Linked DNA regions of Homo sapiens. The protein of the gene in region 3 purifies or fractionates together with the protein of the main gene of each other region. This does not show direct contact. Each region holds a gene or a part of one and is shown on either strand. Other genes may lie near its edges.

Evidence for each region.
Region 1: the proteins of TCEAL9 (region 3) and RANBP10 purify together in Homo sapiens (co-immunoprecipitation; 2 studies listed by BioGRID and IntAct, with this or other methods). This does not show direct contact.
Region 2: the proteins of TCEAL9 (region 3) and RMND5A purify together in Homo sapiens (affinity purification with mass spectrometry; 4 studies listed by BioGRID and IntAct, with this or other methods). This does not show direct contact.
Region 4: the proteins of TCEAL9 (region 3) and ARMC8 purify together in Homo sapiens (affinity purification with mass spectrometry; 3 studies listed by BioGRID and IntAct, with this or other methods). This does not show direct contact.

The regions. Positions count from the first base shown.
Region 1 is NC_000016.10:67,733,541-67,740,576, reverse strand, and holds part of RANBP10 (ran-binding protein 10), read left to right. Parts: intron 1-2,541; coding exon 2,542-2,564; intron 2,565-5,534; coding exon 5,535-5,719; intron 5,720-5,777; exon of another isoform or gene 5,778-6,028; coding exon of another isoform or gene 6,029-6,336; intron 6,337-7,036. UniProt on the Homo sapiens protein: May act as an adapter protein to couple membrane receptors to intracellular signaling pathways.
Region 2 is NC_000002.12:86,765,291-86,772,290, reverse strand, and holds part of RMND5A (E3 ubiquitin-protein transferase RMND5A), read right to left. Parts: intron 6,433-7,000; coding exon 6,267-6,432; intron 2,269-6,266; coding exon 2,166-2,268; intron 734-2,165; coding exon 579-733; intron 1-578.
Region 3 is NC_000023.11:103,351,971-103,358,980, forward strand, and holds TCEAL9 (transcription elongation factor A protein-like 9), read left to right. Parts: upstream 1-4,535; 5' UTR 4,536-4,636; intron 4,637-5,112; 5' UTR 5,113-5,191; intron 5,192-5,644; 5' UTR 5,645-5,714; coding exon 5,715-6,029; 3' UTR 6,030-6,492; downstream 6,493-7,010. UniProt on the Homo sapiens protein: May be involved in transcriptional regulation.
Region 4 is NC_000003.12:138,218,280-138,225,315, reverse strand, and holds part of ARMC8 (armadillo repeat-containing protein 8), read right to left. Parts: intron 3,391-7,036; coding exon 3,319-3,390; intron 1,928-3,318; coding exon 1,785-1,927; intron 1,681-1,784; coding exon 1,583-1,680; intron 1-1,582. UniProt on the Homo sapiens protein: Component of the CTLH E3 ubiquitin-protein ligase complex that selectively accepts ubiquitin from UBE2H and mediates ubiquitination and subsequent proteasomal degradation of the transcription factor HBP1.

The DNA.
Region 1 (7,036 bases), on a different chromosome or scaffold from region 3:
GGGAGACCTGTTGTCAGACCCAAAATAGAATAGACCCTGTTCTATTTTGCAGGGCTTCAGTTTCTTTTCTGGGCAGGGGTTGGATAGCAGACTGGAGATCTCTAAGGAATCAGCAGTTTGAAAACCTCAAAGGCCAAAAGCTCAGGAGCTTCTGGGAGATATAAGACTTTATCTGCCGGGCATGATGGCTCACGACTGTAATCCCAGCACTTTGGGAGGCTGAGACAGGCAGATCATGAGGTCAGGAGATCGAGACCATCTGGCTAACACGGTGAAACCCCGTCTCCACTAAAAATACAAAAAAAAATTAGCTGGGCATGATGGCGGGCACTTGTAGTCCCAGCTACTTGGGAGGCTGAGGCGGGAGAATGGCGTGAACCCGGGAGGCGGAGCTTGCAGTGAGCTGAGATCACACCACTGCATTCCAGCCTAGGGGACAGAGCAAGACTCCGTCTCAGGGAAAAAAAAAAAAAAAAAAGTGTGAACCTGGGAGGCGGAGCTTGCAGTGAGCCGAGATCACGCCACTGCACTCCAGCCTGGGCGACAGAACTAGACTCCGTCTCAAAAAAAAAAAAGACTTTATCTAAAAAATGAGAGGGCTTTGAGTCCTTGGAGAGCCTCCACTGGTCCTGAGTCATTTGTCATTTCTCAGTTTGAAGAACATGGGTGCTCTGGTAGCCTGCTTATATAGTTGTGGTCCCACTCCCCTCTACCCTCACTTCCAATTCAGAGCTGAGGTCCCTAGAAATGCAGCCACTTCTCTTGGCAGGAGGGTTTTTGACAGGCTGTTTTTTGTTTTTGTTTTTTTGGGACAGGGTCTTGCTCTGGCACCCAAGCTGGAACCCAGTGGCACAATCATACTAGCTCACTGCAGCCTCAACCTGCAGGGCTCAAGTGGTCCTCCTGCCTCAGCCTCCCAAGTCGCTGGGACCACAGCTAATTTTATATATTTTGTAGAGACGGAGCCTCGCTATGTTGCCCATGCTGGTCTTGAACTTCTGTTCTCAAGAGATCCTTCCACACAGGCCATTGTTAACCTGAACTTTGCCAGCTTGGAACCTCTGAGGACTCTGACTGCGTATGGACTGGAGATAGGCAGCTGCCACCCTCCCTGTTTCCACTTCTCTGTCAGCTTGGGGATGACATTGAAGCATTGGACTAGGAACAAATCCAGCCCCACCACCTTTGCTAGCTTTATGACTACTGGCAAATTGTCGAACCTCTGAGGCTTATTTTTCTCCTTTGTAAAATGCAATAAGCCTGCTTCCCAGAGTTGGTGTGAGGATCAGATGAAGTAATGGATGGAAAAGGGGCGAGGTGCGGTAGCTCACACCTGTAATCCCAGCACTTTGGGAGGCCGAGGTGGGCAGATCACTTGAGGTCAGGAGTTCAAGACCAGCCTGGCCAACATGGTGAAACCCTGTCTCTACCAAAAATACAAAAATATATATTAGCCGGGCATGGTGGTATGTGCCTGTAGTCCCAGCTACTCGGGAGGCTGAGGCAGGAGAATTGCTTGAACTCGGGAAGCAGAGGTTGAAGTGAGCCAAGATTGTGCTACTGCACTCCAGCCTGGGCGACAGAGTGAGGCCCTTCTCCAAAAAAGGATCTGGCATGCACAATAAGTTTCCATAAATATGTGTTAAATCAAGAGAAGTATCAGGTCTGAAGGGCCGCAGGGGATAGATCTTTTGGATTTAGTTCCCCTTAGCAGGCTTTCTTTGCGGGTGGAGGAGCTATGCACCTGCCTAAGCATCTGATTTCACTTCTGGCCAGGCCGCCAGTGAAGAGAAGGCCATGGTCTAATTAAAACTACCTAGCCCGGGGCCGGGCTCAGTGGCTCACGCCTGTAATCCCAGCACTTTGGGAAGCTGAGGTGGGCAGACCACAAGGTCAGGAGATCGAGACCATCCTGGCTAACATGGTGAAACCCCGTCTCTACTAAAAATAGAAAAAATTGGCCTGGCGTGGTGGTGGGCGCCTGTATTCCCAGCTACTCGGGAGGCTGAGGTAGGAGAATGGCGTGAACCGGGGAGGCAGAGCTTGCAGTGAGCCGAGATCGCACCACTGCACTCCAGCCTGGGCGACAGAGTGAGACTGCATCTCAAAAAACAAAAACAAAAACAAAAAAACCTTCCCAGCTGGACACAGTAGCTCATGCCTGTAATCCTAGCACTTTGGGAGGCTGAGGCGGGCAGATCACTTGAGGTCAGGGGTTCAAGACCAGCCTGGCCAACATGGTGAAACCCTGTCTCTACTAAAAATACAAAAATTAGCCAGGCGTGGTGGTGGGCACCTGTAATCTCAGCTACTGGGGAGGCTGAGGCCAGAGAATTGCTTGAACCAGGAGGCAGAGGTTGCAGTGAGCCAAGATCGTACCACTGCACTCCAGCCTGGGCTACGGAGGGAGACTCTGTCTCAAAACAACAACAACAAACCAAAAAAAACAACTACCCGGCCCTAGCACTGGCTCCACCATGGGGTGCAGAGGCAGAGTAGCCCCAGGGGCTGGCCCTGATGACTGTTCCTTTCCCCCCACAGGTATAGCCTTCACAGACCTCCCGGTGAGTACTACTATTGAGTCTTCCCCTCCTGGGTTTCTGGGGGCTGACTGGGATGGGGCACGGTGGTACCTGCAAGTGCAGGGTGTGGAGTCTGGTTCTTTCCCCAACCAGGGATGTGTGCCATGCTGTCAGCTTGAGGGTACCAGGAGGGGCACTTGCTGGCCTTCCTCTCTCTCCAGCAGTAAGGTCTGGTCTTCCTACGACTCTTAGCAGGTGACAGTAATTTGTGGCACTTCCAAAGGCAGCTGTGGGGCTGGGGCGGGTAGGGTGGTGGAATGAAGATAGCTCCATGGCTCAACTGGTCTAAACCAGCTGTGTGTCAGCTGGGGTGCAGAGTGTAGGGAATTGTTCCTGAACTGTGAGGGAACCTAGTCCTTGTACATACCCATCAGAGATCCCTGAGGAAAGTTAGTGCCCTAGGGGAACTCATCTGCTACTATCTAGGGCACCCCCAAGCCAGAGAGGTGAGCTTTGTGGGGTCTTCTCTTCTTAGAAAAGGATGGAGTTTTCTGGCCGGGTGCGGTGGCTCACACCTGTAATCCCAGCACTTTGGGAGGCCGAGGTGGGCAAATCACGAGGTCAGGAGATCAAGATCGTCCTGGCTAACAGGGTGAAACCCTGTCTCTACTAAAAATACAAAAAAAGTTAGCCGGGCCTGGTTGCAGGCGCCTGTAGTCCCAGCTCCTCGGGAGGCTGAGGCAGGAGAATGGCCTGAACCCGGGAGGCAGAGTTTGCAGTGAGCTGAGATCGCACCACTGCACTTCAGCCTGGGCGACAGAGCGAGCCTCCGTCTCAAAAAAAAAAAAAAAAAAAAAAAAAAGAAAAGGATGGAGTTTTCTGCTTGCTTAGTTCAAAAAAAAAAAAAAACAGAAAAGGATGGAGTTTTCTGCTTGCTTAGTTCAGGGCATATCCTCACCTCCAGCCATCCCGCACCTGTACTCCAGTCTCTATTATGAGTCATCACAGGCCTAATCACATGCAGGGCCTCCACCCAGGATGCTGGGAGCCTGGCCTGGCTCTGTGTGTTCTGGTTAGGTTCTGGAAGGAAGGAAGGTTTGCTGACTCTGGTGGCTGCTTTGGGATCCCAAACACCCCAGTGATGCCCCAGGAAATGCCTTTGTGATCTTATGGGCCTCTGAAGCCCAGACCATAGCACCCAGGGTCCTGTTAAAACCTCCAGTCCATGGCTCAGAATCCTTCCCTCTTACCTGGAAGCCCCAGAGAGGGGCTGTGGTCCTAGGCAAAGAGAACAGAATCAGGTGGAGAATGCTGACCCTGGCTAGGGAAGGGTCTAGTTATGGGGACGTGACATGAAATGACCAGGCATGAGCATGGCCAGTATGCAGCCACATGCAAGAAGGTATGGGGGAAAGACATGGTAGGCAGTGACGGTCAGGAAGGCTTGCTGGAGGAGGCGGGCCTTGCCTGTGGTGGAGGATGGTAGGGGAAAGAAAGGAAGCGAGAGGTCCTCTGTGTGCAGAGCCCATGGTGGGCTGAAGCCAGCATACAGGAAAAGGTCCCATACCTTGTGCAGGTACAAAAATGCATGGTTGGCCAGGCGCGCTGGCTCACGCTTGTGATCCTAGCACTTTGGGAGGCTGAGGTGGGCAGATCACCTGAGGTTGGGAGTTCAAGACCAGCCTGACCAACATGGAGAAACCCCATCTCTGCTAAAAATACAAAATTAGCCGGGCGTGGTGGCGCATGCCTGTAATCCCAGCTACTCAGGAGGCTGAGGCAAGAGAATTGCTTGAACCCAGGAGGTAGAAGTTGCGGTGAGCTGAAATCGCGCCATTGCACTCCAGCCTGGGCAACAAGAGCGAAACTCCGTCTCAAAAAAAAAAAAGTGCATGATACTCAGGAAGGAACATGGCCTGAGCACGGAGGTGAAGGGTGGACTGAGGGCCCTGGGAAGACCATCTGCAGTGACAGTGGGGAGGAGGCTAGCGAGGCTCTGGACAGTTGCAGTGGGGAGCCACAGGAACCACCAAGTGAGGGAGGGACCGAACAAAAGCCAGTCATGGTAGAGGCTAGGTGGAAAGCAGGGAGCCTCACACCCTACTGGCCAGAAGATCCTCTTAGCGAGCCTCTAACAGGAAGGGTAGCTTCTCTTCACCCTTTGCCAGCACCAGGGGTCTAGACCACCGGTTCCCTTTTGCCATGTTCCCCTCCTCCCTCCTTTCCTGCGTCATCCCATCTCTGCCTACCCCCCATGTATCTATCTTTTGGTTTGTTTTTTTTTTTTCTTTCTGAGACAGGGACTCACTCTTGTCACCAAGGCTGGGTTGCAGTGGCAGAATCACAGCTTACTGCAGCCTCAATTTCCTGGACTCAAGCCATCTTCCCACCTCAGCCTCCCGAGTAGCTGGGACCACAGGTGCATACCACCACACCTGGCTAATTTTTATCTTTTTATTTTTTGTAGAGACAGGGTCTCACTTTGTTGCCCAGACTGGTCTTGAAAACCTGGGCTCAAGCGATCCTCCTAAATTGGCCTCCCAAAGTGCTGGGATTACAGGCATGAGCCACTGTGCCCAGCCTCATGTGTCTTATTTTTTTTGAGACAGAGAGATCCTTGGCCCTGGATCTTTCCAAGAGGAGCCATGACCCACTATTGCAGCAGACCTTCATGGGCACGTCTGAAGGGTCGTGGAGCCCAGCCCATTTCTGTATGCTTTGGCTGAGTTCCAGAAAGGGCTCTTGGGCCTTGAGGACACAATGGCCTCTGATACAGGGCAGGACACTCTCCATGATGTGCCTTGCTTGCTTTTCTTTTGCTTTCTCCCCTCAAGCTTTGGGGCATAATGTCTCTGCTAGGGAGGTGGACAGAGGTGGCTCCGCCCTGCCTCCTCCAGCCTTGCTGCAACTCTCCCAGCCCAAGCATGGGCCAGCAGCAGCCATGGAGGTGAGGTGAGGCCTTAGAACCCCACTGCCCTCAGGGCCTGACTGACATTTCATTCTCCTCCTCAGGCCAACCTCTACCCCACCGTAGGCCTGCAGACACCTGGGGAGATTGTGGACGCCAACTTTGGGCAGCAGCCCTTCCTGTTTGACATTGAGGACTACATGCGGGAGTGGCGTGCCAAGGTCCAGGGCACGGTCCACTGCTTCCCCATCAGTGCCCGGCTTGGCGAGTGGCAGGCAGTGCTGCAGAAGTGAGTGCCCTGCTCCTGCCCTTACCCACTCCCACCCCACCCCAGCCCACTTCACTCTAGGCCCCTGTAGGGCTACAAGCTGTTCTTACAAATTCCAGCGGGTGGATCCTTTCTGGGAAGCATTCCCAGGGCCATTCAGCCTGCAGCTCTCCTGCTTCTCTGTCGTCGGATGGACAGCTCCCACCGAGTTCTCCGGGCTGCTCCTAATTAAACCTTTGCCTCTCAGCCATATTGGAGGCTCCTGTATATAAGATCACCAGCAGGGCTGTTTTCCTTCCCCAGGTCATTTTGCAGAGGATTTTGCAGAGGATGCCCTGTGGTCTCTTCCTCTGTGGACCCTTTTTCTACCATAGGGAGTATCCATGGTGCTGTGACTCTGGCCTGAGGCCACCTCACAGGGCCCAGCATCCAACTGAGTCTCATTCGTCTATAGCGGTGGTGGAGGGAAGGGAGTTCTCCCTAGGACCAGCTGAGCTAGCTCCTTGGCTGATTAATTCCCAGACTGTCCTGGAAGCCAGTGTCGCTGAACTCCCAAGGGAGGCCAGCTTTGGGTTTCTCTTCCACTTGCCATCTGCAAGCCTGAGTGAGGCAGTGACCAGTATCCACTCTGCCAGGAGGTGGGTGTTAGCTTGGCTCTCAAGGATGGGCAGATGGGCATGGGGAAGGGCTGGGCTTCCACTGCCTGTGGTCATTGCCCTGCAAAGGCACCAGGGTGCTAGGATTCCTGGGGTGGGGTTGGGGTACACACTGAGTTCTTTGTGCAGCCTTTGTCCCTTGAGGCAGGCCCCAAGGATGGGCTGAGGCAGGGGCTAGGTGGCCAGACCTTCCCCAGGAAAAACAGCATTGCTGCCTCTTGTTCACAGCCCCCCAGAGCAGATGACAAGGACTTCCTTGGATGGCCAGGACAGCGCCACTCCCAGAGCAGGCTTGGTGGGATTGCCAAGAAGAGGGGTGAAGATGCCAAGTCTGTGTAGGGGAGGAACTGATACTCTCAGTTTTCAGGGCCTAGGCTCAGCACATGGATGTGTTTTTGTTTTGGGGTTTTTAAAAAAATACTGAGATGGGGTCGCACTTTGTTGCCCAGGTTGGACTCCTGGGCTCAAGTGATCCTCCCACCTCAGCCTCCTGAGTAGCTGGCATCACAGGCATGTGCTACCATGTCCAGCATAGCACATAGGTGTTTTTGTTTACATGTGTGTATCCATGTGCTTGTATGTGTTCATATGTAGCATTTGCCAAGACCTGCATATAATTTGTGTACTGTGGTTTTACATAACTTCATTTAATGAATATTGATAATGGCTATGTTATCACAGA
Region 2 (7,000 bases), on a different chromosome or scaffold from region 3:
TTTTTAGTAGAGATGGGATTTCACCGTGTTAGCCAGGATGGTCTCAATCTCCTGACCTCGTGATCCGCCTGCCTCGGCCTCCCACAGTGCTGGGATTACAGGCATAAGCCACCACACCTGGCCTTCACTTAGCACTGTTTAGAGAAACAAATGTTCATCAATAGGGAACTGGCTACCCAATCATATTTCTATACAGTAGAATATACTGCAGCTTTAACAAAAAAATAATGAGGGCTGTTTCTGCAGCACAGAAAAAGATCTCCAAAATACATCACTAAGTGAAAACAGCAAAGTACAGAACATTTTTTAGTATGCGACCATTTGTATAAAAAAGGGGAAAATCTATCACCTACCCCAAAAGTTAAGTTAAAGACATGCTTATAAATCTAATCACCAAATCCATAGACACATTAAAAATACTCAAATCAGATACCACCAACTTTGCCAAATGAATAGTTAAGAAATTTATTTAGTTCTAAATCTAGCTACATTTTTTTAATCCTCATCACTTCTTATCCTCCTACCAAGTTCCAAAACAAAATTTATTTGCTAACATTTTTTAAAAGTCAGACACTTACTTGCTACCATTAAACATTTTATTCAGGGCATCTCTTGATATAATATGACCACAGACCAATTTCATGGGTGGATTGTTATCTGTTGTTTGCTGACGAAGAATGGGGCAGGCAAATATAGAGTGATACCAGCACTTTTTACCAAGGTCCACTTCAATCTGTTAAAAAAAAAAAAAAAAGTAAAAAAGCTGAAGTCATATTTCACAAAACCATCCACATGGTAATATACACTGTGCAGCAAAGAACATTGATCAGATCTATTCACCTGAATGTAACTTTCTATAGCACTCTTCTAACTCAGATGGACAGTCTTAGTGATTCAAAGTGTTAAATTAGCCTTCAAGATTATTTTCAAGAAAGCTGACAAAGTGTAAAAACAAGTCTGACAAACAATGACCTGATCACCACCTCTAATGGCTTTACTGGCTTGACACACAGTCTTTAGGTGAATTCAGATTTCAGTCTGCTCTTAGTGCATGTCAGAGATGCTTACAACATAAATGGGAAACTGCCAGATGCCAGGCACCTGCCTCCACAAAACAAGTGAAGGCTCAAGTTCTTTTCACTTGTTCAAGTTAGCGGCAGTAGAGCAGGAGTGCTACTTGTGTCCTGACCACACTCAGGACCAGGACTGCACCTGTGCCTTTAATCAGAAAAGATCTTTGAGGAGAAGCTGGGGCAACCAACTGACAGGGTTACCTGCTGGAAGAACAAGGTAACTGCAAATAAACCCGTGTACAGGTGTGGTATAAAACGGGCAAAAAAACAAATGCGTATGTTAGCTTTTCAGGGTCTGTGACACAATCATGACAGGAACGACAATTCCAGGCCAGAGCCTCAGTGCCTGTCAGAGACCTGGTGGAAACATACATACAATGACCTTCGCCACTTCACATCATAACTGCACCATGGCAGCCACAATTTGAGTGCCTACCATGTATCCCGTCTTATTCTAAGCATGCTTATGTTATCTCTAGCCTTCAGCAGCCCCATAAAGAGAAAGCTGGTGCTTGTCTTAGAGATGAATACACTACTGCTTAGAGAAGTTCTAGAGTTGGCAAGTGATCGTGCTGATGTTTAAAACCATGGTCCTTTCCATGAGAGCAGTAGAAATACAGTACTAGAGACCCACTGATGACTGCAGGTGTTACGACCTTTAAGAGCTCTATACTTATTCTATTGGCAAATGTAACCAGCACAAACTCGTGATCTTATCGACAGCAATAGTTAAGACAAAAGTAAAACCAATTAAATTTGCGTTTATATTAGAAAAACAATCACAGGAGTGGTCTGTGAACTGCACTGCAGAACACACTGCCTGCTACTGTATGTACAGCCCTCCCCACTTCTGATGTTTCCCTTCACCAGCTTTCAAAGGCACTTCAAGTCAAAATTATAATACTCCTCCTCCAGGGTCCCCAAAATGTACTAGGCTCTTCATTTGTATTGTTTAATCTTTTATATATCCATAAAAGAACTCCTGTCAAATGGCTACAATGTTTCCTGGTTAAAAGGTAAGATGAACATTTAAAGATGCCATATTCTTCTAATGGCAGTAAAAGTAAATAGCCAATAGAAAATGGAACTCACAGGTAATTCATCTTTCTGGTTCCAAACTCCAGTACACTGCCTCTGTTCAATCACGGCTTTGATGTTAATTAAAGCTGGCAGCGCCACACAACCTGCTGAGAAACTGGGAGAGCAGAAGAGGAAACGTCAGTGCCAGGCCAGGGGTCAGGCCGCTTGGTCCAAGGAGACATCAATTTCTCCAGACTCTATGTGCTGCAGACCCTGGCCACTGGACAGGGTGAGAGCTTTCTGTTCTGCTAAAAGTAAATCCAGCCATTTCCACTAGAAGAGAAATAACTTGTTTTCCCTCCCCTTCTTCCCCAGGCCCACTGGTATATTTCCTGAAGTTACTGAAAACCAATCCCAGTTAAAAAACAAAACAAAAAATAAAACTCTAAATTTTCTAAATAAACCTCACCAATATGGGGGTAAATGCAGTTAAAGAACGCAAACGTTAAAAAAAAAAAACTCATCTGCTAGGGTAATTTAACTTTAGCTTACTTCCTCAGAAAATAGAAAAATAAAGTTTTAAAACATGCATTTTAAAAAAGAAAGCAGCTTTGGAGAACCAATTAATTCAAATGAAGAGCAGGAATTAAGAACTACTACACTCTTCCAAATACAGTAGTTTTAGCATCTGAGTTTGAAGGAAAAAGAGATGTTCTTGCACAAAATTCTTCACTCAGCAATATACAAGACATAACTTCCTTTCCTATTCCCTTCCTTACAGACCATATACCACCAGACTTATTTTTCTTACAAAATGTGCTCCAAGGTATACGCTAATTAGAACAATGATACTCAAAATGTGGTCTGCAGATGGTGCTGATTTACACACCATTTTCAATCCACAGGAAAGAAGTACAGAATTGAGAATAAGGTTTTTAGAGAATTTAATAACAGCAGATGGTGGTGGCTCACTCCTGTAATTGCAGCACTTTGGGAGGCCAAGGTGGGAGGATTACCTAAGTTTGAGAGTTTGAGACCAGCCTGGGAAACACAGTGAGACCCCCGTCTCTACAAAAGATATAAAAATTAGCCATTAGCCAGGTATGGTAGCATGTGCCTAGAGTCCCAGCTACTGAGCAGGCTGAGGTGGGAGGATGCCAGGAGGTTGAGGCTGCAGTGAGCCACGATCGTGCCACTGCACTCCAACCTGGGCAACAGAATGAGACCCTGTTTCAAAAAGTAAAATATAAAGAATTTCATAATAATCTTACATTAGTGCCAAAAAAGGTTTTATATTGCACAAAACAACTGGATTTAATGGGCTCAGCTTATCAGTCAAATGACATGCTTGCTCCTGAAACATTTTTTTTGCATAGTTCCTCTTATCCCCAGATCACCCCTGTCCAGGGTGGAAGCACTCATTTCTCAGATCTGGAAGTGTTGGCAGCCAACTCTCAGCTGTGTCCGTCTCTTCAGGACTGTCCTCAGTTGAAGAGAGTCATCTGACCAGAGTCACATCCAGCAATTGCTCCATGTGAGGGTACAAAACCCCAGCCCTATAGGCCCAATTTGGGACAACTCCACGGGCCCACAGCAGCTCCAGAGCTCCTCACGGATGGGAGACACCTTGTTGCCACTCTAATACAGTCCAACTTTCCTCTCTGCCCAATCCTGCTGTTTTCATTCTCCCACAGGTGCTGATGTCAGTAAACTTTCTGCATGTACATTCCCACTTTAGAGTCTTCCTCAGAGAACTTGATGGCATCAGCGCCTCACATTATAGCTAATTGCATCTGTCCACTCCTACGCTAGGATGGAGCACCCTGTGGAATGCACCTTATTCATCTTCATATCCAACACAGTGCCCACAGTGCCTGGCACATAGCAGGTATGCAAAACATTTGTGGAATTAAATGAATAGAAGAGCTAAAAAAGAGTTATTTTCTTACAACAGTTTCTTAAAATGTTTTGGTTTCAGGACCCCTTTATATGCTTAAGTATTAAGGATCTCAAAGAGCTTTTCTTTTTGTGGATTATATCTTTAATACATTAGAAATTAAAATGAGAAACATAAAAGGTGCCGATTAGTTCATGTAAAAATAAAATACCATGCCATTATTGCAAACATTCTTATAAAAAAATAACTACAGTTTCCAAAACAAAAATATATGTGTGAGAAGAGTGGCACTGTTCCAAACTCTCACAACTCTCCTGAATGCCTACCTTAACAGAAAGACAGCTGGATTCTTATAGTTTACTCTGCATTAAATCTATTGTGATACGTTCTTCTGGTTGAGGTAAATGAAAAAAAACCTTGTTTCACACATATGTGTAGTACTACTTTGATCACTTTGGATCATTGTGGATACTCCTCCTTAATACCACACGAAAACTGACTTTTCATAGTTTTGGCCAAAACAGGTAGTAGTTTTCTAAAGGTTCGCTGCAGAGCAGAATCTGAAACTTTACCATTAAACTTTTTGTACCCTGCTACATTAAAATCCATTTGTCTGTCTTGTACTTTGAATGACTCTTTTACTCATGCATGCTTTTGTAAAATCATACTTAATTAAGACCTTTCAAATGTGACAGGCTTGCTTCGTTCACTTAAAAAAATGGCTGGGTGATGTGGCACACAACTGTACTCCCAGCTACTCAGGAGCCTGAGGCAGGAGAATCACTTGAGCCCAGGAGTTTGAGTCCAACCTGAACAACATAGCAAGAATGTCTTAAAAATTTAAGAAAAAAGACAAAAAAAAAAAAAAAAAAAAAGACTGCCAAAAACCTGAGTGTGCGTAACTATGTTAATGATTCTTCCAAGTAAAAACTATTCCAAGGCTGGTGCGGTGGCTCACGCCTATAAACCCAGCACCTTGGGAGGCCAAGGCAGTGGATCGCCTGAGGTCAGGAATTCGAGACCAGCATGGCCAACATGATGAAACCTTGTCTCTACTAAAAATACAAAAATTAGCTGGGCGTGGTGGCAGGCGCCTGTAATCCCAGCTACTCCAGAGGCTGAGGCAGGAGAATCGCTTGAACCCAAGAGGTGGAGGCTGCAGTGAGCTGAGATTGCGCCACTACACTCCAGCCAGGGGACAGAGGGAGACTCCATCTCAAAAAAGCAAGAAAAAAACAAGTAACAAACAAAACAAGTATTCCATGAAAAAAAGTGACCAGCTAGCTCATAACTCAAAACAACATACTTTTTCTCAAGACAATTACCATACTTTGACATGAAACTGAAGTGCTTTATGTGGATTTCCTATTTTGTCATACAAATTATTAAGATGATGTGTACTGAAAGGTCAAGATTTAATAAAACTAATAATTTTAATGTTTCACCAAGAACATCCTTTTTTAAAAAAGTTTTCTGTAGAAATGGAGTCTAGCTGTGTTACCCGGGTGGGTCTTGAATTCCTGGCCTCAAGAGATTCCCCCCACCTCAGCCTCCCAAAGTGCTGGAATTACAGATGTGAGCCACCACACCAGGCCAAGAATATTCTTTTTTTCTTTTCTTTTTTTTTTTTTTTTTTTTTGAGACAGTCTCGCATTGTTGCACGGGCTGGAGTGCAATGGTGCAATCTTGGCTCACAGCAACCTCCGCCTCCTGGGTTCAAGCGATTCTTCTGCCTCGGCTTCCCGACTAGCTGGGATTAAAGGTACCCGCCACCACGTCCAGCTAATTTTTTGTGTTTTTAGTAGAGGCGGGTTTCACTATGTTGGCCAGGCTGGTCTCAAACTCCTGATCTCGTGATCCACCCTCCTAGGCCTCCTAAAATGCTGAGATTACAGACGTGGTTAAGTAAAACTAGCATTTCTTAAACTGCAAGTGTGTGGTGGTGAGGAATCCAGCTATTCGTGGAGTTTGTACCACCGCCCCAACTTGTGCTAAGGCTCTAGCAGTTTAGTCCACCACTGTTTCTGGACCATCTGTACTAATGTCAATACAGTGGAAAAGGCTCTCAGGATCCTGTGAGGTTCATACACCACACTTTCAAAACTGCTTCTCTAAAACAGCATCACTGCCAATTGTGATATCTTTTGAAATACCAATTGCACTCTTCTTTGGAAAGACAAAAGTTATTTTGGCTTTAAACATCAAGAACCAAACAAGTTAAGGGAAGGTGATAATGCAGTGCATACTTCAATAACAGACAGGGCTAATTTCCATACCTGACACTGAGAGGGGACTCCACGGAGAGCCCCAGGAGGGCACAAGCATCCCGTGTAAAGATGTCACAGATATCAGCCCACTGGTTTGCATCAAGTAGGTGAACATATGGTGAGTTCTCAATCCCTTGTCTCAGGTACACAAGGCTTCCCATCAAAACCTGAATGTCTAAAAAAAGCACCAGCAAGAAAGCATTAGTTTGCTTGCAGTAATAAGCTGCGAAAAGCAAGAATACCCCCACCCATACTGATACAGCCTAAAATAATGTATTAACAGGTCTTTTAAAATTCTGGTCCTTAAGCTTGGTTTCTTCCTTCATCCTAAATTAAACAGCATGGAGAGAAAAGGGAAGAAAAGGAAAGCAGTGAAAATACTGAACTTATAATTTAAATTCTTCTCTACAGCATAGTATAATTACCATTACCTAGAGAAGTAACAATTATGTCATCACATTATCTCTGACTGCAGAGTTAATGTTTCCTACACAGTTTCGTGGGGTTGACAGTTGCCACCTTGGCTCTCTGACACTTTGCTGTGGCAAGAGCAGCAGCATACAGCCAGGTGGGGGTGGAAAAGAGCAAGTGCACACCTTGCTCTTTCTCACATCTCCTCTAAGTTTAATATGGAATTCCAAAATCTGCAACATCTCTGACTTCTAAGAGGCTTTAATATTTTTGTTTTTGTCTAGAGCCAGTCAGAACTTTTCCTGTAAGTGATTATCAACTACAACTGTTTA
Region 3 (7,010 bases):
ATTAAATGGGAGTTTAATTTTAAGTTTAAATATTTTCATTTTTTCCCCACTAACATTATAACTTATAGTAATATGCTATGAAGTAGGTAAGTTTGACTAGGTAGGATTTTACCTTATATGCTGACTTTAGAATCCATCCTTGGCTTAAGATGCAACTCCACTGCACTAACACATTCAGTGATAATTGAGAGGAAATCTACAGAAAGGACATAAGGGTTTAGACTGACAACATCTAGTGATCGCCTAATTAATATTTGTGAAACCAATAAGTGGATGAAGTGTATATTTGAGAGCCACCAAATAAATGAAATTGAGTGTATATTATTGAGGGTTTCCTTCCTCCTATATGTATTTTTAAGTATAATTAGGATAGTTTTATATACATTATTTATAACCTGCTTTTAAATAATAGTTATTTTCTTTATTTGCAAAAAATAAAACATTTTTACTGGAAAAAAGTAAGGTAACTATAGATACATGCCACATGTCAAGCAGAGCCAGATCCTTTCTGTTTCTATTCATACATATTTTTTAAAGAATTGAATTGGCAACTAAGAATACTATTTTATAATCTGCTTAAACTATTATATTATTGCCATAAGTATTACTTTCTCTAGCAAAAATATTTCCCTAGAAAATATTTTCATCAGGTCAAATTTAAGAAAGAGATGCCTCCTTCCCCATGTTAAAAATGTAGTAGTACACTTTGACCATCTCAAACTTGATTGAAGGGAGGGATAGTCAGAGGAAGGGGAAGAGACCCTCATTTCTAATGCATACTAGTTACAAACATGTAGTCCTTTGAGGAGGTCAGCGGAGCAAGGGAAGGAAATGTGAGGGATTCAACCATCGTAAGGATCTGAAGTCTCAAACAGGTAGTGGAGTCCCTTAATTCAGACCCTGTTCAGCTACAGAGAAGTATGTATATGAAATATGTGCCATAAAATAAAATCATACTATTTGCAGACATTTCCTTACTGTAGAAGTTACATATGCCCCCTGAGAAAATGTAGAAGAGTCTACAATGAAGTAAAAAAATACATATAAATCATCCATAAGCCCACCAACCACCCAATCATACCTAATTCTAATACTGTTACTGTTAATAACCTGCTTTTTCCTTACATAGCAATATACTATAAAAATTTTCATTTCAATAGATACATGGCTGTCTAATATTTGTCAGATATTTTATTTCTTCTTCATTTTTCACTTTTGTCTCAAACATTTTTCTGAATATTAGTAATTAATATATTACTTATTATTTATTTATTTATTATTATATTTTAAGTTCTAGGGTACATGTGCACAATATGCAGGTTTGTTACATAGGTATACATGTGCCATGTTGGTTTGCTGCACCCATCAATTGTCATTTACATTAGGTATTTCTCCTAATGCTATCCCTCCTCCAGGCCCCCAGCCCCCGACAGGCCCCCGTGTGTGATGTTCCCCACCCTGTGTCCAACTGTTCTCATTGTTCAATTCCCACCTATGAGTGAGAACATGCGGTGTTTGGTTTTCTGTCCTTGTGATAGTTTGCTGAGAATGATGGTTTCCAGCTTCATCCATGTCCCTGCAAAGGACATGAACTCATCCTTTTTTTATGGCTGCATAGTATTCCGTGGTGTATATGTGCCACATTTTCTAAATCCAGTCTATCATTGATGGACATTTTGGTTGGTTCCAAGTCTTTGCTATTGTGAATAGTGCCACAATAAACATACGTGTGCATATGTCTTTATAGCAGCATGATTTCTAATCCTTTGGTTATATACCCAGTAATGGAATCACTGGGTCAAATGGTATTTCTAGTTCTAGATACTTGAGGAATCGCCACACTGTCTTCCACAATAGTTGAACTAATTTACACTCCCACCAACAGTATAAAAGCATTCCTGTTTCTCCACATCCTCTCCAGCATGTTGTTTCCTGACTTTTTATTGATCACCATTCTAACTGGCGTGAGATGGTATCTCATTGTGGTTTTGATTTGCATTTCTCTGATGACCAGTGATGATGAGCATTTTTTCATGTGTCTGTTGGCTGCATAAATGTCTTCTTTTGAGAAGCGTCTGTTCATATCCTTTGCCCACTTTTTGATGGGGTGGTTTTTTTCTTGTAAATTTGTTTAAGTTCTTTGTAGATTCTGGATATTAGCCCTTTGTCAGATGGGTAGACTGCAAAAATTTTCTCCCATTCTGTAGGTTACCTGTTTACTCTGATGGAAGTTTCTTTTGCTGTGCAGAAACTCTTTAGTTTAATTAGATCCCATTTGTCTATTTTGGCTTTTGTTGCCATTGCTTTTGGTGTTTTAGTCATGAAGTCCCTGTCCATGCCTATGTCCTGAATGGTATTGCCTAGGTTTTCTTCTAGGGTTTTTATGGTTTTAGGTCTAACATTTAAGTCTTTAATCCATCTTGAATTAATTTGTGTAACTTATTAGTAATTTAAATATATAAATACAACACTTAGAAAATAAAAGTTCTCTTTATATGAAATACACATTCTCAAGTATATCCTATGATGTTCAGGATATATTCATCTGCATTTCTAATGATATAAAAATACAGTAAGACCCTGAAACAACTTGAGTTTGGATATAACATGATTGGTGATAGCAGGTGGGGAGAGAGTAAAATGGATGGATGATATTTAAGTCCAAGTGCTCAGTGAAGAATTGTTTGTGGCAACAAATCACAGCTGAGTCCTTGATGAATTTGGGTTGTGTAGCCAGCTAGCCAAATAGACTCACATCAGTCATTCCATCCATCCATCTCTCAGTAACATAACCTGGAATTTTATAGAATGAATTTCTGGACTTCACTTATCATGTTATCATGTAATTTAATTGTATACTCATATTTTAAATACACAAATATGTATACTGTTACAAAAATGTAATACCACATATAAAATTAACTTTCAATTTGCCTTTTTTTGTTTAACAATATACATTGAACAATTTTTTTCATGTGAGTAAATGTAACTCCACATCATTTTTTCATCACTGTATAATGTGGCTCTATATGAATGATCAAACTTTTCTTAAACCAATTTCCTTTTAGAAACATATAAGTTTTTGGCTCTTTAAAAAAAACACTATTGCCACAACTACTACAATGACCATATTTGGCATAGGAGTATTAATGTATGATAAATCTCTAGAAGAGGAATTGATGTGTCCAAAAGCACATATCTTCTAAAGTTTGATATTGCCAAAATGACTTCCAAAAATGTTGTACTACTTAATAGTCTCACAGTACATGTGAATATTTGTTTTACCATATGCTCATCAACTCTGAATATAATCAATATTTGTCTTTTCTAATTGTACAGATGAAAAATTAACTCTTATTTTTATTTTCAATAGATCTCAATTCTATGAGCATATGCTATTATTCCCTTCTTTCAGATGAGGAAACTCAGGTTCACAATGTGTACCTGACGATTAATTGATGATTCTTCAGGCAGCACAGCTTCCTGGTAACACCACCATGAGGACTCTGGAATGAAACATTACTCTTTTTTAAAAAATTCTGTATCATTTTCCTCACAAAACTTCTAATATCACAACAGCTTTCACTTTAAAAGCACTTACTATATGCCACATGTACAATAAGCACTGTACATGTATTAACTCATGTCATTAAAGTAATTTTTTCTTTGTCTTTTCTGACTATAAAAAGATAAAAGTTGCCCAGTGCAGTGGCTCAGGCCTGTAATTCCAGCCCTTTGGGAGGTTGAGGCAGGAGGATCACTTGAGCCCAGGAGTTCGAGACCAGCTTGGGGAACATAGACCCTGTCTCTACAAAAAAATTAAAAGACTAGCTGGACATGGTGGCACACACCTGTAGTCCCAGATACTTGGGAGTCTGAGGCAAGAGGATCACTCGTTTCGAGGAGTTTGAGGCTGCAGTGAGCTGTGATCGCACCACTGCAACCCAGCCTGGGCAACAGAGTGAGACCCTGTCTCAAAAAAAAAAAAGAGAAAGAAAGACAGAAAAAAGAAGAGAGAGAGAGAGAGAGAGAGAGATTAAAGTTACCTTTTTAAAAAGGATATAGAAGTACGAAAAATAAAAAGTAAAAATTGCATTCAGAAATCTCACTCTTGTTCCAGGGTCTTTTTTTGTTGTTGTTTCACAACTGCTGCCAAGGCCACCCTGCTCTACAACAGCTAAGAACCAGATTGCAGAGGAAATGGAGGCTAGAGGAGGGACGACTGATGGAGGAGTTATCCTGGGAGTGGAAGAATGGAAGAGACAATTCTCGAAAGAAGTAGAAAAGTTCAGTAGCTCCAGAAAAAGAGGTAGCCCCTCCCTAGTAATCAGAGTCAAGCAAATAACATTTTTCCCGCTGGGATAGGAAACAACAGAAAAGACTGACAGGGCCAAATGTATAAGTGGGGGGCGGGGAGGGAGAGAGGGTGGGCCCACTTCTGCCGCGCTTTTGGTGGGAGTGGAAATTAGGGACCCGAGCTCACTGGTGACGTAGATCTCATGTGACCAGGAGTCGACGTGTGCAGAAGTCCTGGTAATCTGGTCCTTGTTCCCGTCTGGATACCAGCTTCCTTCAGCAGCGCAGGCGGTGGTCCCTGAGGCCCGTGGAAGGAGTCAAACTTGCGGGAATTTTGCAGGTTGGTGTCACTGTAGGTGTTGACTGGGGATTTCTAGTGTGGGGGGGTTTAAGGCAGAGACTTGTGGGAGTGCCGGTCAGGTCCGTCCCTCCACCCTCCACCTCCAGGTCTACGGGAACTGATGACCCTTGGGAAAGGGACTAGGGGTCCTAGGAGAAGAACAGGGAGACCTGTGGTAGTTTAAAAATAATCATCCTCTGCTATCTAAGACTGCTTTCCGGACCCCCACCCTCCTCCCGAACCCCGCCTCAGTCTTAAAGATAGTTTGGAAATAATCTGCTTTCTCACTCTTTGTCTGATGGGAAAAACGAACTGACTTGCATGCACTGTGGAGAGGGGGTGAACTAGGGGAAACAAAAGGTGGGAAACTTTCCATATCCGAAACCCTAAAGGAGGAAAGCTACGTGTGTCAGTCTCTGGCGCTGGTCGGCCCACCAAGCGCTCGCCCCACCCCCACCGTCCCCTCCCGTTTCCAGTTTATCTGCAGGGCTGTTGTTTCCAGCAAGACCCAAAGCTAGAAAAGGAGGAGGAAGAAACTGACCCGATCAGTGCCAGGTAGGTGAGAGGAATATTATAAAGTCTCCTGGGGTGGAGACAAAGGTTGTAAGCGCCACCGTTCCTGCCGGCTCCCTTCCACCCCACCCCTTTCCCCTCTTCTTTTCTCTCCCCCTTCTCCTTTCCCCTCTTCCTCTGCCTGCCAGCCACCTTTCTCTTTTCTGGCCTGGTCCCTGTGTTAGGCCCTATGGGGGAAAAAGGTCTGGGGAGGGCTGGACGGCGGAAAGGAGGGCCTTGGAAAAGGTTAGAGGGAAGGACAAGAGAGAAGTGAGGAGGTGGAAAGTGGAGGTAAAAGGAGTGGGGATAGTGAAGCTCTGATTGCTGACTGGGCTTCTTAGGTGGAAGATATTTTATAACAGCTCTGAATAAAAAAAATTAAATGCTAAGGCCTCTGTCCACAGCACCTGTCCACTCACCAAGTCTTTAACTTACTGTCTTCTTTTTGCTTTCTAGAAGTCATTGTATTCAAAGAAGAATAAGCAAGAAAGAAAAGAAGGAAGGAAGAGAGGTAGACAGATACAAGATGAAATCCTGTCAAAAAATGGAAGGAAAACCAGAAAATGAGAGTGAACCAAAGCATGAGGAAGAGCCAAAGCCTGAGGAAAAGCCAGAAGAGGAGGAGAAGCTAGAGGAGGAGGCCAAAGCAAAAGGAACTTTTAGAGAAAGGCTGATTCAATCTCTCCAGGAGTTTAAAGAAGATATACACAACAGGCATTTAAGCAATGAAGATATGTTTAGAGAAGTGGATGAAATAGATGAGATAAGGAGAGTCAGAAACAAACTTATAGTGATGCGTTGGAAGGTTAATCGAAACCATCCTTACCCCTATTTAATGTAGTTTACCTTGATTTTTATCTGATATTAACAATACCATATAGCTTGCTTTTTATTAGCATTTCCTGATATTCCTTTGTCCATATTTCTACTTATAACCTGTTGCTATTAATGGTTTTAGATGTATCTCTTGTTATCTGCATCTCATTGTTTATTGTATTTTGAACCAATCTACAAGTCTCTGTCTTTTAATAAAAGAACTTTACACATTTGTAAAAAAGAGGTTCTTGGTAAGATATAAAATGGAAAAAGGCTAAGTAATATGTGAATATCATATTTTTGAAAGGTAAAAAGTACATTTGTATATTACATATATGGACATAACTTGTGAAGGATGAAAGAAAGTACAGCCTCTCGGTGGTGGGATTATGAATGATTTTTCTCCTTTTGCTTGTTTGTATTTTCTATATTCCTAAAATTAACACACATTATTATTGCTAGAATAATAAAAGTTTTATAAAAAAGAAGCAACAAGCAGCACGTATTAGTTTATTTCTAAAAGTATTGGGGCATTTAATATTTGTTGACAGAATTTTAGAAGAAATGTGAACTTGAAAGTAACTCCAGACCACTTAGCTAGAATAATAAATTTTACATATTTTCTCATCTTTAAAATAAAGAAAATAATCTCACAAGGATCTGGTGAGGGCCAAATAGAGTAATGACTGTGAGCTATGTTTGACAGAGTTTTGTTCCCATCCCAACTCCGTAAGAGATTAATTTCAGCGATTTGGAAGGGTGGAGAAAGTAGTTCTTATCTGTGATTAAGAACAAACCCAAGGCCGGGCGCGGTGGGTCACACCTCTAATCCCAACATTGGGAGGCCAAGGCGGGCAGATGACGAGGTCAGGAGATCAAGACCATCCTGGCTAACATGGTGAAAGCCCGTCTCTACTAAAAATACAAAAAATTAGCCGGGCATGGTGGCAGGCGCCTGTAGTCCCAGCTACTCGGGAGGCTGAGGCAGGAGAATGGTGTGAACCCA
Region 4 (7,036 bases), on a different chromosome or scaffold from region 3:
AACATGGTGAAACCCCGTCTCTACTAAAACCACAAAAATCAGCTGGGCGTGGTGGCACATGCCTGTAGGCCCAGCTGAGTAGCTCGGGAGGCTGAGGCAGGAGAATTGCTTGAACTCAGGAGGCGGAGGTTGCAGGGCCGAGATTCCTCCACTGCACTCCAGCCTCGGTGAGAGAGACACCGTCTCCAAAAAAAAAAAAAAAAAAAGCCAGAAGAAATGAATTTGGGCTGAGCACGGTGCCTCATGCCTTCCTCTCCACTTCTCTAAGTCTTATCCATTATTCAAAACCCAGATTAAATTCTAGCTTCTCTGCAAAGCCTACTCTGCTGGATTTCAACCGAAAGTCAGCTGAACTCCCTATCATTCATCTAGCGTAAAATAAACTTAAGTTCTACATATAGAGAGATAAAAATGGGTCTTTTTAAAAATAGCTTGTAAATTCCTCAAAGTCTGAGACTATCTTTCACTTTCTTACAAAGCTGAGAGCATCTGATATTTGGAAATAAGAAAGAACTCAAATACTTTTTGAGACTTTATTTATGTACTTATTTAGAGACAGTCTCTAAAAGCAGACAGTCTGCCCTGTCGCCCAGGCTGGAGTAGGGTGGTGTGATCTCAGATCACTGCAACGTCTCCTCCTGGGTTCAAGTGATTTTCATGGCTCAGCCTCCCGAGTAGCTGGTGTTGCAGGTATGTGCCACCGTGCCCGGTTAATTTCTGTAGTTTTAATAGAAATGGGAGTTTCACCGTGTTGGCCAGGCTGGTCTCGAACTCCTGGCCTCAGGTGATATATCCATCTTGAACTCCCAAACTGCTAGGATTACAGGCGTGAGCCACTGTACCCAGCGGAGACTTTTATCATTTTTTATTTTTAGTGAGAGGATCTCATTCTGTCACCTAGGCTGAGGTGCAGGGGCACCATCATAGCTTAGTATAACCTCAAACTCCTAGGCTCAAGCAATCCTTCCACTGCAGTCTCATGAGCTAGGACTATAGGCATGAGCCATTGCACCAGGCTAATTTATTTTTATTTTTTTCTTGTAGAGATGGAGTCTTGTTGTCGGGCGCAGTGGCTCACACCTGTAATCCCAGCACTTTGGGAGGCCGAGGCGGGTGGATCACAAGGTCAGGAGTTCAAGACCAGCCTGGCCAAGATGGTGAAACCCTATCTCTCCTAAAAATACAAAAAATTAGCCGGGTGTGGTGGCACGCGCCTGTAATCCAAGCTACTCCAGACGCTGAGGCAGAGAAATGCTTAAACCTGGCAGGGTGAAGGTTGCAGTGAGCCGAGATCGCGCCACTGCACTCTAGCCTGGGTGACAGAGCAAGACTCCACCTCAAAAAAAAAAAAAAAAAAAGAGATGGAGTCTTGTTATGTCACTCTGGTTGATCTTGAACTCCTGGCCTCAAGCAATCCTCCCACCTCAGCCTCCCAAAGCACTGGGATTACTGGTGTGAGCCACCATGACCAACTGAGACTTTTTTACATAACACAGTTATGATGAGTCTGAAGATGCTAAGCAAATTAGGAGTAGGCTGTTGGTGAAATGTAACTAATGTCTCAAATACATCTAAAACTCACTGTATACAGTAGCTCCTCTGGAGTGACAGGACTGGTGAAGATGGTACGCAGGCATCGGAGGCAAGCTTCAATAAACTTCAGGTCTGGGGACAGTAGTCCTATTAACAGAAATGAGATTTAGGACTAATCCTTTCAACCAGTATTTAAAGCACTGCAAACTGATTCTTAACCTTAATTGAGCAAAAATGGCTTCCCTACATACCTTGCAATAAGGCAGGGATAATATGGCAGTCCAGTAGAGACTTGACATTGTTTTCAGTACCCATAGCAAGACTTCCCAACACCACTGCACATTCAGTTTTCAGCTCTGTGCTTGAGGTTTCTTGCTGAAGCAAGTACAACAATCTAAAAAGAAGGAACTTAATAAACGAAGAGACTAAAAAATTTAAACAAGACTCAATGTGACCAAAAAAGGCTGTGCAGTCCACATACTAAAAATATGGTTGGCTGAGTTTATATGAATCCAATGGTCATTTGTTTATCTCATCTGCTAATTAAAGAAACATCTGGAAAAAAAATCTAGAAGAGGTTTTGAAAAAAAGAACTATCATATTCTTAGAGTTTATAAAAAGTGTAAATCTGAAAGTTGTCCACAGATAGTCTCTGTAGAAACAGCGTCATCAGAGTCCATGTCATCTACCACTTCCTGCTGGGTCTCCAAAATATGAAGACTCTCAAATGCCATGTGCTGCCAGATCTTAAACTCAAACTAGAAATGCTACTGCTCTGAATCCAGAGCAGTGGTGCAGTTTGTAGATATCGAGCCTATAGGGAATATTCAGAGCCCTTGTGCAGCTCCTCAAGCAAAGGTAGTTTCTTCTTTCTCCAGCTCTCTCATTTGGAAAAGGAAGAGATCCTCTCATTTCCACTCCAGCCCAGCTTGCCAAACAAATACTCCCCAAACCCTAACCTTCCTCCACTTATAACCATCTACCTTATGTTCTAAGACAGGACCCTCATGCTCCATAAAGCACTATTTATATATACCAAACATAAATCCCCTAAGAAAGGCTGCTGACAGCTTTATAGTTACTAAAGTATATGTTTGAGGTTGGTGAGTTAAAACACTTAAACCATTAATTCTGTATCAAAACCAGAAAATAAGGAGAAAAAAACAAAATAATAAATAATTCTGAATGAAAAGCTAATAGCAATTGCACAGAAAACTTAGCTCTGAGGAGCAAAAGTAAAGAGGAAGTTATGTAACTGTCATTGCCTGCCTAAAGGAAGCTTATTAGGTCATCAAAAGAAGAAATTAAACTTCCTAAACTTCTTACGTTAACTTAAAAAACAGCAAGTTGTAAAAATCAGAAGTTAAAAAATGAAACTGGATTAAAAATCAAGCAGGGTTTTTTTCCTTTAAATTCAAAAAGGTCTTAAGGCTCCTAATAAATTACCCACTCACACAAAAAACTGCCAAGGCTCTAAGGAAATGGAGAAGAAAGTATCAGGCTGTTGTACATTGCATATGTACTTTACGAACCCTTTTGTCATCAGGTCAAAGGTCTTCCTGAGTTTCCAAAATGTATTAACACATTCACTTCTTACTACATTCTCTGTTACTTTATAATTTTTTTCCTTAAAGATAGTTTAAATACTTACATTTATTTTTAAAAATAGGATTTATTTTAAGAATTAGACAGACAATACAGGAAAAATGGGTTCTATAATTGAGAGTAAGAAATACATTAGAAACTAGTATGAATGGCAAGAAAGGGGTGAGACAGCAAACATACCTTGGAACAGCTCCTAAAACAATGAGATTGGCTTTCTGCTTGTTGTTTCCAATTACAGCATTTTTCATGTCTCTGAATTAAGGGGAAGAAAAAATAAAGTATGTTGAGACAGCACTGAAGAAAAATCAAAGATCATTCTACTTCATTATGCAATATCTTAGATTTGACAAAGTAAAAGCACTAACCTTTTTTCACCTAAAGTACTAATGAAGGGATAGAGATAGGTGCAGAGTGAATGTGGGGGCTGTAAAACGGCGTATTGTAGAAAGTGAGAGATATCCTGAGTACTGGCGAAAGACTTCCAGTACAGAATTGAGTTCTTCTAGAAAGGGTACCTACCAATACTTTGGATACAAAGGAATACAGGCCACCCTCACGCTCAGCTCTAAGAGTAGGGAGTGAGTTAAACGAACAACAACAACAACAGAAAAAACAGCCCACAGAACATTAACTCCTTGTTTCAATGATCACACTTTGTTCACTTTTTTTTTTACTTCTTTATATATTATTTCTTACAATTCCATTTTATCTGCTTTATTGTCTTACTAACTGTACTCCTTTGTTATTTTCCAATGCATCTTTTAATTTATCACAGTCAGTCTTCAAGTGATATTAGCCCATTGCACATGTATTTTAAGAGCCTTGCATATGTATTTCCACTTTCCCATTCATTTTTTGGGCTGCTGTTATACAATATTTTTAAATTGCTTAGAAACAACATAATACATTGTTACTATTTTTGCTTAAGCAGCCAGTTATCTCTTAAGGCGATTTAAAAAATAACAAAGAATCTTTTACATTTCTCAGATATTCACAGTATTTTTTATTCTAGCTATACAGAGCTCTATACTTCACCAGGAGCAAAACTCTATTCCACAATAAGAGAACCTCTACCACTGATCACTTGGCTCACAAATTTGTGGTTGGTTCAAAAGGAAATGTAGAGAAAAAATAAATAGCTCAAAATAAACCCAGTACTACTAATAAAATGTTTAAAAAAACTTCCCTGGCCGGGCACGGTGACTCACACCTGTAATCCCAGCTCTTTGGGAGGCCTAGGCAGGCAGATTGCTTGAACTCAGGAGTTCAAGATCAGACTGAACAACATGGCGAAACTCCATCTCTACAAATAATACAAAAATTAGCCAGGTGTGGTGGCACGCACTTGTGGTCCCAGCTACCTGGGGGGCTAAGGTAGGAGGATCACTTCAGCTGGGGAGGTGGAGGTTGCAGTGAGCAGAGATCGCGCCACTGCACCCCAGTCAGGGTGACAGAACGAGACTCCATCTCAAAAAAAAAAAAAAGAAAAAAAAATCAACAAATAAATGTTATAGTCAGCATACATTTCTAACACCAATCATATTTACTGGCATTAAAGAACCTGGTAACGATTAACCCTTGTCTTCAATTGCCTTTTTTGATTATTGCAGAAAAATACTGCAACAACTAGTGATGTGCTAAAAGCAGATTTTCCCTACAAGTTTCTGAATGGCATTTTTACAAGTCAAGCCAAATACTGAGAATGCCTGGTCTTTCTTCCATTAGCTCAGTGCCTGAGGGTAGGGCTTTTTTTCCAGGCCTGACCTATCCCTCTGTAAAGTATCCCTCAGATCTTCTATATGGTTTACAAGAAATAAGTAGCAATTTTTTTGTTGTTGTTTATGGGACTGAACTGAATGAAGTTTACTGAGGTTGTTAGCAAGTTCTGATACATGAATATAAAACTATATGATATCAAAGGATCAATTAGCAAAGTTAAAGTTAGTAAGAGATTTCTAAGCTCCCGCATCCTCATGGATGCCTGTTTTCTTTAGAGGCTTTAGTTCCTAATCATCAGCATATGGACCTTAACCTACCAGCTTGTTGTTCACTTTCATTGTCTTCCTTTCTCTTAATGTGTTCTGCCTATACTAATGTAGAACATTCATTTATCCAGCCCCTACCTACTTAGAGTCTGTGTAGGCTAAGTGCCATTCTGAATGCTTTCTATTCCAGAACTCCCAACCCTAATATTTCCCCAGTTTTTCCTCTCCATTCTTCTTAAGCAGAAATGAGCGGTCCCTAACATTACCAAATGAACCCATTCCAAACATCTCAAACCATGCCATGTTTTTACAGACAAGAGCAAACAAAAACCTGTCCAACACCAATTTTCTAATTCTCTTAATAGTTTACAAAAAGGACATGAAGGAGGTAACTGATGGCAACAGAGGAAATGCCAACTAAAGAGAACACAATACAATGGAACAATGTCTAAAGAAAAAGATTCTCGCTTTGGCTTTAGTAAGTAAATATACCTGTGCTAGATAAGGAAAAAAAGATGTTAATAAATTCTATTCAATTGTTGCTATAAAGGAATGTTAATAGATCACTTCCATGAAGAATTAAAATCAAAAGGATTAACAGGATTAAGCAATCAATTTCAGATGACAACATTCAGCCATCTAGATGAAGCTTCTTTCAGTTCCCAGAGTGTAGTTATTCTTTCTCCGTCATCTCCTTATCCCCTCCCTCATACTTTCCCCTGACTAGCTTTACTCATCCTTCAGGTCTGAATGTCACTTCCTCAGGAAGCATGCCCTGAAACCCCCAGGTCATCACTTTGTTAGAGTAAAAGTCTATCTCCTCCTGAGAGGCAAGAAAGCCAATCTGACCTGGAAATATCAAAGCAGTTACTGTCAGTAGATCATTATTTATAGTGATTCTAGATATCCATTATTTTTGTAAAATGCAAACTCACAGCTATCATCCAAGATGGGAACACAACAACACTATCCAAGATTTCTACATTACTTTCAAATTTACAAAGCATTCCATATCCACTACTTAATTTCATCTTCATCATAATCTAGAGTAATATTAACTCCATTTTACAGAGAGAAAGCTACAACTCAGGATTGGCCTTTTTTCAGAACCCAATATTAAATGACAGAGCCAGTCTCAACCCATGTCTTTTATGCCAACTGTTTTTTCCATTATGGCCAGGACATCAGACATTGACAACGAACCAATGGAAAAGACAAATGAATTCAGTGAATTCATTTTCTTTTTCCTTCTGTGTTTTAATGTTACATTTTTATGCAAAATAAAAGTGTTTCTAACTTTTAGTCAGATACCCTTTTCCCAGTAGACCAAAAGAATGTCATCTCATGCCCACTAACTTTTAATGTTGGGAAAAATGCTCTACTTACTTTTACTGAAATTCAACAACTAGTTTTTGAGCTCAGCATTGTGCTAGCCTCTATGAAGTATACGAAAGTATCACACAATGGGATGCCTGGTCTGAGGAGTTCACAATATCCGTGGAGTGGCAAAAATAACACTATCAATGTAAGTCAGTACTAAATTAAAAACTGAATGTTTATAAGGTAAAGAAAAGTAGATGCTCAATAAGCTTAAAAGGTTTTGAGGCAATGGTTAAGAACTAAGATAAACCTTAGACAATAGTCAGGACTTGGATAAGCAGATGGGAGGACAAAAGGAGAAATCGTTCATACAAGACCATATTGGAAATGAAAATGGCATGTTCCTGGGGCAATACAAGGAGCCTGAACTGAAAAACAAGTTCGCTTTAGGGTGGCATGGAACATAAAGTTAGAAAAGTGATAGGGAGATGAGACAAACTAAAGGGAGATGGATTAAGGAGCAATCATATTTTTGATCACAGAAGGGGCATGAAGGAAGCAGTGACTAAGGAAAATAAGCTGAATGTGAAATG